Linked DNA regions of Homo sapiens: region 2 is reported to be linked to region 1. Evidence: microRNA targets listed by miRTarBase, many of them from high-throughput screens and not tested one by one. Region 1 holds a microRNA gene; the other region holds the end of a gene's coding sequence.

What was found. Region 1 holds the annotated microRNA hsa-miR-18a-3p (ACUGCCCUAAGUGCUCCUUCUGG, at 3,777-3,799, opposite strand). A microRNA usually pairs through its seed, bases 2 to 8, with sites in the 3' UTR of a target mRNA and lowers its output. Matches are read on the target gene's strand: a 7mer-m8 pairs with bases 2 to 8, a 7mer-A1 pairs with bases 2 to 7 and ends in A, and an 8mer does both.
Region 2: the mRNA of UBN1 is a reported target of hsa-miR-18a-3p. Seed matches in the 3' UTR shown: 7mer-A1 at 2,947-2,953.

The regions. Positions count from the first base shown.
Region 1 is chr13:91,347,476-91,354,595 of GRCh38, reverse strand. It overlaps MIR18A (microRNA 18a), which reads right to left and starts at 3,845; the gene lies at 3,775-3,845. MIR17HG (miR-17-92a-1 cluster host gene) reads right to left here and starts at 6,909. Exons shown (of 3, transcript NR_197388.1): 1 at 6,637-6,909; 2 at 4,826-4,898; 3 at 19-4,440. It overlaps MIR17 (microRNA 17), which reads right to left and starts at 3,991; the gene lies at 3,908-3,991. MIR19A (microRNA 19a) reads right to left here and starts at 3,705; the gene lies at 3,624-3,705. It also overlaps MIR20A, MIR19B1 and MIR92A1. RefSeq lists enhancers at 4,776-5,323, 5,324-5,871 and silencers at 5,421-6,410, 6,461-7,120.
Region 2 is chr16:4,879,212-4,886,331 of GRCh38, forward strand. It overlaps UBN1 (ubinuclein 1), which reads left to right. Exons shown (of 18, transcript NM_001079514.3): 18 at 872-3,190. The coding sequence ends at 921. PPL (periplakin) reads right to left here. Exons shown (of 22, transcript NM_002705.5): 22 at 3,296-6,836. The coding sequence ends at 4,173. Among named protein-coding and RNA genes, the nearest start is that of UBN1, 35 kb to the left of the region's middle. RefSeq lists a silencer at 4,964-5,164 and an enhancer at 5,923-6,423.

The sequences.
Region 1 (7,120 bases):
CCATAAAAACTGCGATAATAACCTTGAAGTTTTTATTTCAATATTCTCGTTCTGGACAATTTCTTAACAGCTTTAAAATGCAGTATTTTATTTATTAACATTAAATGCGCTAGAACTCAAACAGCCAGACCAAACTGTAAATACAGAACTAGGCACATCTCAATGTTCTGTCTCTGTGTTTACATTACTGGATAAGAAAATTAAGCATTCTTCAACTTTTCTATGGGTCTTAAAATTCATGGAATATGTGCATTTTCCTAATGACCCTTTAAAACTAATACCACATATGAAATGTTATCAAGGCAGAAAACTACATTAATTTCGACTTTAATAAGATGTAACTCATACAACCACTAAGCTAAAGAATAATCTGAAGTCTCAAGTGGGCATGATGATCTTATTTCCATCAAACACTAAAAACTGGCTCTGTGCAGATTGAGCTCTCCTTACCTTTACTGCTCAGTTGAGAGGCTCTTAATTCTCTAAAGTTAGACAAACTATGCAAAACTGTCAATTAAACAGTGTATCATTAAATACATAATAAACTTTAATGTGACACTGAGTTGTTCTCCAGGAAGTTGCAGGCTGCATTTTGTCAGGAGTCAGTGTGTCTTCAAACTACAGGAGAAAACCCAAGTCTGGCTTGTAGTTAGACAGGTCTGCCTGTAAAATGAAGATCTCAAAAGTTTTCAGTAAAATCACCAACACTTTGCAAGCAGCTTTAAAAAGAATTCCTAAAATGTTAAGTGCTTTCTTTCCAAATATAGGCTAAAAATAGAAAGTTGTACATGCAAACGCCAAAAAAAAAAAAAAAAGTTGACCCATTTTTTCCCCTCCAAATAGTTAAGGCTATTTATTAAACCTAAAGCAACATGACCTCTTAAGTCTCAAGCAACTTCAAGGTTAAAGCATTTTAAGAACAAGGGTCAAAGTTGTTTTTTCTCAGGTCAGAGATGAGGCCATTATCAACTTGCTCACTCATCTGAATTTCAAAATGGCTAAATTAACAATGTGAATCTTTTTATACAATACTTACATGGCTTTTTGTTGGCATGTTAGCATGCCTAAGAAAATCTTAATAGAACCAAGAATGTAAAATTTGCCTCACATTCTAAAGCCAGAAACAAATCAAAAGCAATTCCTATTAAACCCTATAGAACCACAGATCACTACCAAACCCACAACAAAACATACACATTTATTAACTTGTTTATTAGATTTAAATCTCAGTTCAAGCCCAATTAAGTTCTGAACACAATGAATACTAGTTTCAGTCTCTAGGGAGAAAAGCCATTTAAGTCTTTGTTATTAAAACATATTTGACTTACATTTTAGAATATTTAAGAAATCATCCAGCAGGCTTCCTATCACACTGTTCCAGTTTTTAAAAAAATTGCTAGTGTATCTCCCCAAAAGCACACCATTTTGCAAACTACCAGACCATGCTGTATTATGAAACTTTTTTTTTTTTTTTTTTTTTTTTTTTGCGTTTAAGTCTTGGTCTTGCGCCCAGGCTGGAGTGCAGTGGCAGGATCTCAGCTCACTGAAACCTCCACCTCCCAGGTTCAGGTGATTCTCCTGCCTCAGCCTCCAGAGTAGCTGGGATTACAGGTGCACGCCACTGCACCCGGCTAATTTTTTATATTTTTAGTAGAGACAGCGTTTCACCATGTCGGCCAGGTTGGTCTCGAACTCCTGACCTCAGGTAATCCGTCTGCCTCAGCCTCCCCAAGTGCTAGGATTATAGGTGTGAGCCACCGTGTCCAGCCGGAACTTTTTAAGCATAGTTTGAAAGCCACGTTTGTCACTAAATAACCAAAAAGACACAATTATTAGGTCTCCTTCAATTCAAAAAGCTTAAGAACTCTGCTAATGTACAATTTGATTTCCATTTTATAAATCACTGTTCATTTCACATCCTGAAAATTTATGTTTTCATCAACTCCAGAATGATAGAATTCTTACCTTTCTATTCAGGAATCCAAGGCTAAGTTCCTTAAATTTCTTAAAGAACACATTAGAGGTGAAAACTTTTGTTAGACTTCAGACAATATTTTTAAAAGCTGATTTCTAGATTTATTGGGTGGTCTAACCTAGTGTTATGGAAGTTTATTTCTTATTACTAAGATAGCCTCTTTTACTCCAAAATACAATGACATTTCTCAAAACTTATCTTTCAAACATCAAGTTTGCCTGTACTTCAGCTTGGGCCCAATTTTACCACTTGGTCCTTTTAAATCTATTATTCAGGTATCCCACATTATTCTACACAAATACACATAGGCTAGAGACAAAAACACATGAAGAAAAGAGAGAAGGCAGAAATGCTGGGTAAAACACTAACTGCCACTTCTTAGTTTCCACTTCAGTGACTTTAAGTCAAATAAGCCTGGAATCAACTATCACTGTTGCCAAAGTCTGGCTTACGTAGGGAGTAGGGAACATAAATGTTAACTACAGACTTAGAAATAAATGAATATCTGAATCTCACCCCACCGCTGCACTCTTGGCATTTGGGAAGAGTGTACACATACATTTAACTGTTACTCTATTTAGCATTTGTTCTTTTTCTAACTCCCATTTTTTTAAGTTGCAGATGCTAAAAGCAGTCTGAGGACCTTGGTCATTTATAGCTTATAAATCACTGACAATCAGAAAGAAAAACTAGTATACAAGCATTTAACAGTTACACTTCAGTTACTCATGTATTGGTAAACTGGTACTTGCTTAATAGAAACAAATTGTACCCCAACCCTAAATTCCATGCTTAAAAAAACTCATCTTTACACATTGCTTTAAACAGAGCGGCATTCTCTCTAAATTTAAATACTTGAGTAATATATGAGCAACATAAATTAACTTTTAGATTAAGTAAAATATCCTGGAATAACACTAACTCCAAAGAAAGCAAAAAGATATACTCTAACTTTACAGATGATCATCAGGTATACAGTATGTTTAGTCATATCGCAATACTTAACAGCCAAATAAATCTAACAACAAAAAATATAGCCAGAATTTATACTGCCAAATCTGACACGCAACCCCAAAAGTGAAATGTTTTTGAATGAAAACAAGACAAGATGTATTTACACAAAAAGTTACACATTTTCTTTAATATTTCATGTATCTTGTACATTTAACAGTGGAAGTCGAAATCTTCAGTAATATTTAATTTTCAAAATCTTCTGGTCACAATCCCCACCAAACTCAACAGGCCGGGACAAGTGCAATACCATACAGAAACACAGCATTGCAACCGATCCCAACCTGTGTAGAAAGGGGTTTGAGTTTCCCTTACTTTTCTACAGACTTTTCACTACCACAGTCAGTTTTGCATGGATTTGCACAGCAGAATATCACACAGCTGGATGCAAACCTGCAAAACTAACCATAGAACAGTGTTCAGTAACAGGACAGTTTGATTGGGCGACAGGCCGAAGCTGGAGTTCTACAGCTAGCAGTACTTTAAGTGCTCATAATGCAGTAGATAACTAAACACTACCTGCACTATAAGCACTTTAGTGCTACAGAAGCTGTCACATCAGATAGACCAGGCAGATTCTACATCGACACAATAAAAGTACACAAAATTAGTAAAAATCATTCATTTGAAGGAAATAGCAGGCCACCATCAGTTTTGCATAGATTTGCACAACTACATTCTTCTTGTAGTGCAACTATGCAAAACTAACAGAGGACTGCAAACAAAAACTATTAAAACACCTATATACTTGCTTGGCTTGAATTATTGGATGAATACATAACTTCTTATGCCAGAAGGAGCACTTAGGGCAGTAGATGCTAATCTACTTCACTATCTGCACTAGATGCACCTTAGAACAAAAAGCACTCAACATCAGCAGGCCCTGCACTTTAAAGCCCAACTTGGCTTCCCGAGGCAGCTGTCACCATAATGCTACAAGTGCCTTCACTGCAGTAGATGCACATATCACTACCTGCACTGTAAGCACTTTGACATTATTCTGACTGGTCACAATCTTCAGTTTTACAAGGTGATGTTCTCTTTTTTCCTGCTAAATTTGAAATAGATAATTAGAATTAACACCTCAAACTCTAACAACTATAAACCATACAAATTCAGCATAATCCCTAATGGGGAAGAAAAAATTAGTTTAATTATCTCAAAGATATGAGGTCCATTTAGACACGTATTTATGCCTTAAGAATTCTTTACAGAAGGCAATCATAACCAACCATCCAACTAGCACTGGAAGTGGTGGCTCTTCCAATGGCTGGCCTCTCCCAAATGGATTGACACATAGAGAAAAAAAACAAAACAAAATGAGACTGCAAATAAATGAGAACTAATTTTGGAACATTTAAAGGCAATTTAGTCCATGTGTACCTTTTAGAGGAAATCTTCACATCCACGTGGCAAAACATTTTCCTCCTCTTCTGGCTTCCACTTAGCAAATACTTGTTGAAATGATTAACAAAATTACTGTTCAGACTACACTTCAAGTGTTATCAGTCAATTGTAGCAGAACGTAAATATCCTGTTTAAATCTATCATCTCAGGTTATATCTACTTTATCACCCAACTTAAAAGAGGGTCTAAAATTATATTTCGTAAACTGCATAAGCCAGTTTCCAAAAATGTACAGGAATATTTACACTGTAATTTTACTACCTTAAAATTAGCAAATCCGTACTTAATGAGTTAGTTTTTCAGAAAAGGTACATTGTCTAAAGAAAGAAACACCTACTTTTACTCTCTAAGAAACCAATCCTATTTATTCAACTTTAATAGCAAGAAAAATTTGTTTTTAAGAAAAGTTCAAGAAAATCAGAATACACTTACCCATTCCAGAAAACTTCCTTTTCAGCAAGTATTCTCAGAAAAGCTACTGGTGCAGTTAGGTCCACGTGTATGACTGGAATAGGGAAAAATAAGGAAAAAAAAGATAAAACATTATTTGCTCAAAATTACTACCACCGTCCAAATCTATATTTGCTATTTTCCAACCTCCTAACAGCAATTAATTCCATCCATTTGTGAGAGTAAGAGTCGAGCAATACTAGCAGGATTTAAAAGCCCAATAATTTACAGTTGAAAAATACGTAAGAGAATAAAGTTGAAAAATCCTTAGCTATCAGATACATGTCTAAATAAGCTCCTAAAATACTTGATTATGATCAGCAGCAATCACCGACTCCACTGTACAGCTCCAGTAAAAGGAAAAAAAAAAAGCAGCCCACAGACTATTCTTCACCACCCCTCCCCCAATCAAGACCTCGTGGCTGCAAGCCGGGATAAAGAGTTGTTTCTCCAACTGCTGTGGTCCTGATGGCATGCCGTTAATTTTCTCTTTTGGTGATATTGCAACGACGAGCCTGCCTTTTTCAGTTCCTTTTCCCTTTGCTGCAGTTTAGGAACAGAAGACCGGGCAGGAACACCCGAGACTGCAAAGTGCCCGCCACGCTCATGGAGCCCGGGCCGGCAGCACATGTCGCACAAGGGGGAGCGCGGCCCTGCGATTCTCCGCGTAGCCGCCAGGGGGCGGCGGGTCAGAGTCAGGCCCCGCCGGACGCGGCAACCCCCCCAACCCGTTTCCCGGCGGCAGCCGCGCGGCGACCGGCGGCGCCGAGGCCCGAGTGCGGCGGGGACGCGGGCGCGCCGCCCCTCCTTTGTGTCCCCCAGCCCCCCCGAGCCCGGCCCAGAGGGGCGGGGGCTCCGCGGCCGCGGTGCCCGTCGCACGCGGCCCGAGGCCTAAGCCGGGAACAATCGGCGGCGGCGCGCAGTCGCCGCCATGTCCCCCGCCCTCACCCCCGTGCAGCCCGCCCCGCAGGAACATGGCGGCGGGGACGCCGCTCCCGCCGAGCCGGGCTGGCCCTCCCGCGCCACACTCCCAGCAAGCGGCCGGGCGCAGGCGGCTCCACGCCGCGGCTGAGGCCGACTGCGGCCTCCTCCGAGGGCCACGGCGGGGAAGTTGCGGGCCCCGCCCCGAGGCTGCCCACGCGGGCTAACAAAGCCCACGCGGAGCGGGGGTGGCGCCCAGGCCGCGCCGATCTCGGCGCCCCTCCGCCCACCCTCGCGCGTACAAAGTTTGGGGAACCGCGGGCTCCCGCCCACGCCACGCCGCCCGCTGGCGCGCAGGTACCTCGTGGGCGCGCCCCCTCCCGGCCCGCGGCCTGCCCCATGTGCCGCCGCCGCCGCCGCTTTGTTCTGGAGGCGCTTTAACTCTCGCCCTCGGGAGAAACTTTCCTACCCAGAGACCCCACGCCCCGCGCGCGCCCCGGGCCCCGGAGAAGGCACGGGCCTCGCACGTCCTCTCCCCGAGGGGCCATTGTGTTCGCCGTCCGCCCACCCGCCTTCGGGTCGGCCCAGGCAGGGTCTGCGCGGGTCCCGGGCGCGGCCGCCACGCGCACGCCGCCCCCTCCCACCCTCCCGCCCCGGCCCTGCCCCCCTCCGCCGGCCCGCGGGCGAGCGAGGGGGCAGCCAGATGCGGCTGCCACACGCCGGGGCGGCCAACGGCCGAGACCCGCCCCGGCCACGCCGCCGCCGCCACGCTGCCCCGGGCCAGTCCGCCCCGGGCCGCTCCGCCCCGCCCGCCAGACCCGGGCCGCACACAACAGGTTTCCCTCCGTCGCCGGAGGGGCGGGCAGACTCACCAGGAGGAGTAGCCGCCACCATCTTCGGCTGGCCGGCCGCGGGCTCCTGCTCCCGCCTCCCCGCCCGCCTGCGCTTTACTACGACCGGAGGCCCCAGGCCGGGGGTGCGGCCGGCCGGCCCGCCCCGCGAGGAGAGCTTCGCGGAGGAGCGCGAGCCCCGGCGGCGCTGCGGTAGTCGTCCCCACCCCCTCGGCCTCGCCCGAGGGCGCGAAGTGGCGCGAAGGCGCAGGTCGGGCGGCGGCGGCGGCACCTCGAAGGACCATGTGGGTGAATGAAGGGCGGCGGCTCCCGCCTCAACGTAAATACGGACAAGCCCCACTCCCTCATTAGCATAAAAAACAAAGTACTTCCGACCTCCCCGCCCGCCCGCCAATCACCGCAGGCCCCGCCCACGGCGGCTCGTTCTTGGCGGCCGGGAGAGCGGGAGCCGGGAGCCGCTGGCGGCGCCGCGCAGCCTTCCCCGGGCCGCGCTCCCCCGTGGCCC
Region 2 (7,120 bases), not on the chromosome of region 1:
CTCTAACGTGACACTACACATTTTAGATGTTGAAACATCACTATGTACCCCATAAAATATGTGTCATTATTATGAGTCAGTTTTTAAAACTGTTTAAGGCTCTCAGAGGCTGGATGTGGTGGCATTGAGAGGCAGGAGGATTGCTTGAACCCAGGAATCAGAGGGTATAGTGTGCTGTGATCATGCTTGTGAATAGCTGCTGTACTCCAGCCTGGGCAACATAGTGAGACCTCATCTCTAAAAAAATTTTTTTTAATCAGTTTAAAAGTTCGAGGAAAAAGAAAATCAATCAGAAAAGCAACTATACCAAAACAGGGTTATCCAAGTGAGCTTCTCTCACTTCCTTAGATGGACTTCAGCTTATAGGATGACACGAGATGCGAGTAAGAAGCTATTTGCGCATTTCAGCTGCGTGACTTGTGTCTGCGTTGCTTTCCTTTCTTTCTTCTGTGGACTGAGAATGCTAGTGCCTTTGAATTTGTCTTTACAGGACCTGAGGGTCTTTTGATGGTAAGAGAATGAATGATCATTGCTGCCTTGAGTTCTGTGTGATCGTCAGGCCTCGCCTCAGGATGGCAATTGTAGCCTGAGATGACGTAGCCCAAGTTGCACAGCAGAGTTGCTGTTCTGGAAACACTGTGCTGAGTGACCACCGACCTTCACAGTGCTAGTGTGCTTGCAGGCTGTGGCCAGGAGTAGTGTACACGAATAACTGCTGGCTGGTGTCTCATGGCTTGTTTGAGCTCTAGAACACTCAGCATTTGGGGACTTTTGCTATTTAGGTGTCTCCCTTGAAGTTTGGTTACTACTGCCTTAAGGAAATCAGAGAGCATGAAAAACTTGCGTTCTAATTTTTCTTACTCTTTTCCAGGTGCTTCTCAGCTTCACGGGAAAGGGCCTGCTGTACCACGGAAATTGTGACCGCTTCAGAGGCAAGGCTTGCCACTTGGGTCTGGGTGGAATCAGAACGTGCAGGTCTCCCAGGATGTACACTCACTGCGCCCTTTCTGCTGCTTGGTGTTCTTCTGGAGGAGCGTGAGTTCTCAGCGGAGCGCTTCTCGGCACTTCTGATGTGCCTCCCATGGAGGGAGCCGGGCCCTTGCTGCTCAGGAGGTGCAGACTGCCCCGTGCTCTGGGCCTTGCAGCTCTGTCGCTAGACGGTTGTTAGAGGGGCAGCTCTAGGCTGGGGCTTGCGCTGGGCCGTGGTGGGAGGCACAGTGTTTACAGGCTCTGGTGGCAGAGCAGTTGGCACACCTGTGGGTGAATCTGCCTGATCCCCTGGCATTTGGTCAGAGTACCTCAGAGCACCCCACTGCTCAGGGGCTCCTTCTGGCTGCAGTAAGCTCCCTGGATGGTCACAGTGCCGCCCCATCCCCAGGCTGTGTGCTCAAAGCGGACAAAACTCAGGCCAGAGCCACAGCTGGGAGACCTGCACTGTCCCTGCGAAATACTAAGAACACCTAGGGTGTGCTCACTGTGGGGGCCAGTTTCTCCTCGGAACATGACAATGAAGCTCTTTTAGAGAAAAGACCTTTGTAGATTCAACAATTATGATAGGATTTTTACAGACACCTATTTTGGGCTCAGTTTTCATCATTACCATTAAATGCATTGGATAGAAGGGGACTGTTCTTCACACATCATATTATAGGAAGACATAATTCCAGTGCCTTTATGGTGGAGCAGAATTCGACAACACATGTCCATTCAGCCCTCTGAATGGATCTGAGACGAAGACCTTTTTAAAGATATGTCTGTATTGAAGAGAAAGCCAGTTTTGAGTTTTTTACACTTGCACATCATTATCTGTGCCGTCCTGACTAGAAGGTTGTCTGGGCCCCCAAATTCCAAGTCCCAGTATAGCCAGGGCTCCCATTTTGTTTTTCCAGAGTTCGTGGAGGTGGACTGCAGAGCCCAGAGCCCTTCATCTCTCTGAGGGTCAAGGATACCAGGGGTCCCAAGTCACAGATAGACATTCCAGTTTGTATTCTTAGGAATCATTCTTAGGCAGTGCGGCAGAAGCAGGCCTCTGTGAAGTGTCTGCCGGGTAGAAATAGGCCTTGAAGTCCTGGGGCTCTCCAGGCAGTGGGGTTATGTGTCGACTGAAGGGTGATGTGCAGAAGAGCTTGGAGAGTGGATCAGAGAGACTAGGACAGTTACTGCAGAGCTCCTAAGTCACCACTCAACCAGTGGCTGTTTCACAAGGATTTGAGGGCACTTGCCTGTCTTGTGAGGTCTGTGCCACAAGGTGAGTCTGAACTGACTGCTCCAGCTAAGTGATCAGGCACGTTGAGAGTATACGGTGTCCTCAGCACATACACCTGTGGGAAAACGGACCGCTCTTGGCTCCTGACTCCCAGGGTACAGCGCCCAGTAACTCATCCTTCATTCAGAGGTTTGCTGGCCTTCCCGGTTTCCCAAGGAGCAAGACCTCTGTCCGCCCTTTGGCCCGGCCTCTGCTCTGTCTCCTTTTTTTACATAAGAACCAATCCGTGTTTCACATTGGGCTAAGTGGATTCCTTATCCCTTTGTTATATATATTTTTTGCAACTTGGATTTCCAGTTTGTTTACAGAGTAGTCTTAGGTAGTAGCAAAAGAGCCAAAGAAGAGATTTGTATTGCTGAGCTCAAAGCCAAGCAGAGGCCGGCAGTGGAGGCTGAGCAGGGACTCTCCAGGCTTCTCTGCCCATAAACACCCGGGTCCCAGGCCCTCCTTCCTTTCCCTTTGGTGCTCCCTCCTCCCCACGTACCATTGCGCGTGCAGCTGGAGCAGAATACCCTCATTTTTAGGAATCTAGTGATGCCTCTTGCCTCAGGGAAACGTTTCTTTGATGGGGAGTTTGAGATTTCTTTTCCTTGTTTATGCTTTATTTGTGGTAATGAAAGAGCGAATGACTGAACAGCCATGGCAAGGCAGACCTACAGGCGAGGCCGCAGCAGAGGGTGGGGCAGAGCAGCCTCGGGGTCTGGGGGCTGCAGGGGTTTCCCTGGCGCAGCGAAAGTCTCTGAGCACTTACCGGGCGTGACCGTTTCTTAGGTGTGAGAGGGGCTGTGGCTTTTGTGCAGCGACTATGTTGGTGTTAGGGGTGGTGTGGAGATTGTTAATCTTGTATAAAGCAATTCAATAAATTGTTTCAAGGTTTCCAAAACATTTTTTCTCACTCTTTTCTTTCTACCATGTGGAAGTAAGTAGTTCTTCCTGTAGGAGCTGTTACAGATGGAATATCCATTTTGGCTGAAAGCCAAGGGGGGGGGGCGGGGGAGTAAGCCTTGCATGCAAAAGAAGAAACATGTGGACCGTACAAGCAGACTCCAGCCACCAGGTTTATTTTCATGCTATAAATAAATTTCCCTATTAGTTCCCATTTTCTTATGTTCTACATGAGATACAGAGACCCAGATATTGGCGTGGTGAATAATCAACTGTTTTGTATACCTAAATACCAGTGAGATAATAAGCGAGACTTGTAAAGCACTGAAACTAAGGCTAACAGCAGCACAATCCACTATCAAAGGATTTAAATGCCAGAACTGTGAAACATTCTCTGTAGGTGCCGGGACAGTCTGGTGGCTGACAATTAACGTCCACTCCAGCACCGAGGGCTGGACACTTGTGGTTTCTGTTCACCTTTCCTGGCTTGGAGCCCAGATCTGTCTCATGAGCAGAGTAACTACTGAGGAGGCTTCTCGGATGGAAAGTTGGTTTTAAGCCAGAAATCTGGAGAGATGTCATGCCAGGCAGCAGCCCCCACGGGCCCAGGCCTTTGTGGGGCAGTGTCACTGTCTGGTGTGCCACCAGTACCCATGCTGCAAGGAGTGGGCTTGGCTGCTGTGGTTGGCTTGTCCTTCAGTGGTTTTCAGATTGTGTGCAGTTATCATGAGGAGTTTGTTGCTGGGAGTGTACAGGAAAAGGGAGGAAAAGGCATCGCAGTTGTCCAGTCATTGGAGGATGAAGTACGTCACTCAGGGTGAATGATGGTTGGGACGAGAGTTGCCTGTCTTCAGCCAGTGCCTGTCTCATATGTGGGCGGGACTCTGAGCAGCCTGGCAGCGAGGGTATGTATAAAATGCTTGGCCTGCACCAGGGCAAGGGAGAGGACGACACCAAGGAGGTCACTGCGTCGTAGGAGAGGGCCAGCGTCTGCCGTTACGAAGAGTTGCAAGAGCTGTGCCTACTTCTGCCCAGATACCAAGACCGCCAGCTCCTGGATGGACATATCCTTGTTGACATAGCGGTCATACTGAGCAGGGGTCAGCCTGCCACTCTGCAGGGCCTCTTCGATGGAGAACTTCTTGCCAGACTTCCTGTCGTGTATCACTGAGGACTCCCCATTGGGACCCTTCACTGAGATCTCCTCCCAGTCGCACTCCTGGCTTCTGAGTTTCACGAACATGTTCCAGTCAATGAGCCCGGCACGGTGGGCTTCCTCCGGGGACAGCTCGCGGCCTGTGTCAGGGTGGATGACTACGATGGAGCGCCGCAGGTGGTTCTCCCGCTGCTCCCGCTTGACGGCCACGGAGCCCAGGCGCTTCTGCAGCTCGTCGATCTCGAGGTCTTTGTCCTTGGAGAGCCTCTTGAGGTCATCCAGTTCCCTCTCCAGGGACCACAGTCTGGAGTCATGGTTGGTCCCAGAGTCCGCCACGGTCATGTTCCGCAGGTCTCGTGTTTCCGTCGCTGCCATGTTGATTTCCGATTGGAGCCTTCGGGTCTCCAGCTGCAGGTTTTGCCTCTCCAGCTGTAATTTGTGGTTCTCTTCCCTCAGAAAGTCTAGTTCCTTGGATGACTTGGAGTTATGGAATTCCAGCTCCGAAAGCCTGGCTTCCAGCCGGCTCACCTCGACGTCCAGCTCGCGCTTGCTGCGGCTCTCCTCCTCCAGGCTGCTCTTGAGCCTCTGGATCTCTTGCTCGGTGTCGCCCTTCTCCACCTGGACACTCTCGGAGAGCACCACCTTCTCCTTGACCTCCGCCTTCTCCAGTGCAGCCAGTTTCCTCCGGAGGGTCTCGAGCTCCCCCTCCAGGAGCTGCCGCCGGTGCTGCTCTTCTTCCAGCTGGAGTCGGAGCAGGGCATGCTCTCGCGCCTGCTGCGGGTCCTGCTGCAGCACCACCTTCTGCGTATGGGTTACCTTCTCACGGGCCTCAGCTTCTTCCTGCTCCAGCGCTGCCAGCCGCTGCTGCAACCGCTGTACCTCGCGCTCGGCCTCCCTGCGGGCCTGCCGCTCGCGCTCTAGCTCCTCCAGCTGCCGCTCAAGCTCGGTGCGCCGGCGCTGCAGCCGCCGCAGCTCTGCCCGCAGCTTGTCAATCTGCCGCAGCTCCACATCGATGCTCTCGGCAAAGGCGCTCGCCTCGGCCCGCAGGCCTGGCTCCTCCTCATACCTGACCACCTCCTGCTGCACCACCCTTTCCTTCACCCGCGAGAGCTCCTCCTCTTTCCGGGCGATCTGCTCTTCCTGGGAAGCTCTTTCCCTCTCCAGATCCACTTGTTTCTTCTGCTCCTCTGAGAGCTTTGCCCTCAGAGACGCCACCTCCTCCTTGGTTTGAGGGTCTTCTTGGAATTGGAGGATCTCCTGGACCACCTCTTTGGTCTGGACCTGGGGTTTGGTGTCTTTCAGGGCCTGGATTTCCTTTTTCAGCTGGTAGATCTCTAAATCACACCTTTCGATCAGTCTGGTCTTGTCCACGATCTCCTCCCTGAGCCGCTGAAGCTCCTTCTCCATCTCAGGGTCAGTCTTGTACTTAATGACTTCCTTAGTCACCTCTTTGACTTCCACCTGGGGGCCTCGCCTCCTGAGGGCCTCCAGCTCACTCTGGTAGCTCCGGAGCTGCTCCTCGGCACCCCGGTACTTTCGCTCCTGCTCCACAAGCTCCAGGCGGAGGTTCGCCACTTCACTTTCCGCCTTGGGGTCTGGCCGCACGATCTCCCGCACCTTCTCCTGCACCACCACTTTGGCGTTCTCCTCCTCCAAGGCCCATATCTTTCGGAGCAGCTCCGTCTTCTCCCTCTGGCTAGCGCGAGCCTTGGCAGCCTCGTCCTCATATTGGCGGGTGAGATCGCTGACCTCCCTCTCGGTGGCCGCGTCCTTCTCCACCTTGAGCACCTCCTTGACGGTGATCTTGCCCTCGGCCATGGCCCGCTCCTTCTCTAGCCTCTTGAGCTTGTCCTGGAGGAAGCTCAGCTCCTCCTCCTGCTTCTCCCTGAGCTGGTCCTGGCGCTGGTGGTCCTCCTGCAGCTGCTGGTACTCTGCCTCCAGCTGGGGGTCATTCTGCAGTTTCACCACCTCTTTCTCTGTGACCTTCTCCTGCGCCCGGCTCTTCTCTTCAGCCAGGGCGGCCACACGCTGCTGCAGGAGGAGCACCTCTGCCTCCCGGGCGCCCTTCTGCCGCCTCAGTGCCTCCAGCTCCTCCCGCAGCTGCAAGACCTCATCCGCCTGGGCCCTGTCAGGCTCGATGCGCAGGACCTCCTTGACCACGTACTCCTGCCCCCCGTCTCTGGTCTCCTGCTCCAGGGCACGCAGCTGCAGCTGCAGTGCCTCCAGCTCCTCCTGCAGCAGCTGGTTCTTGTGCTGCTCCTCTGCCAGCGTCCGCTGCAGCTGCTGGAAGCTCTCCTCCAGCACGGGATCCGGCACCTTCTTGAGCACCTCCTTCCTCACCACCGATTCCTGAGGCCCCTGATTCCTCAAGGTCCAGATTTCTTCCTGGGTGCTCTTGACCTCGTTCTCCAGCTGCCGCCTCCGCTCAGTCTCCTCATCCAGTTCCTTCCTGATCTTCCACGCCTCCTCCACTCCAGAGTCCGGCCTATTCCTTTGCAGGGTCTCATGGGTCACTTCTACTTCCGGCTGCTGTGATGGAGAAGACAAGACAAGGTTAAAGCCAGGCTCTGGCAGCACATGTAGGGCCTGTCCCCACCTGGTCAGAGTGGCTGTCCTGTGGTCCCCAAGGGACTCCCTCAGTGCCAGTTCATGTTAGTTGTAGAGTTCTAGGGTTACTTTCAAAAAGGATCAAACAACTAGTTTGGGGTTTTTTTTAATCAGGTAAAACATTTTTGAGCTGTGGAAGAGTTTAAAATGAAACCACGGTCTCCCACCTCTGGTCCCCGTCCTAGGGCGTGTCTGTCAGCCTTGCA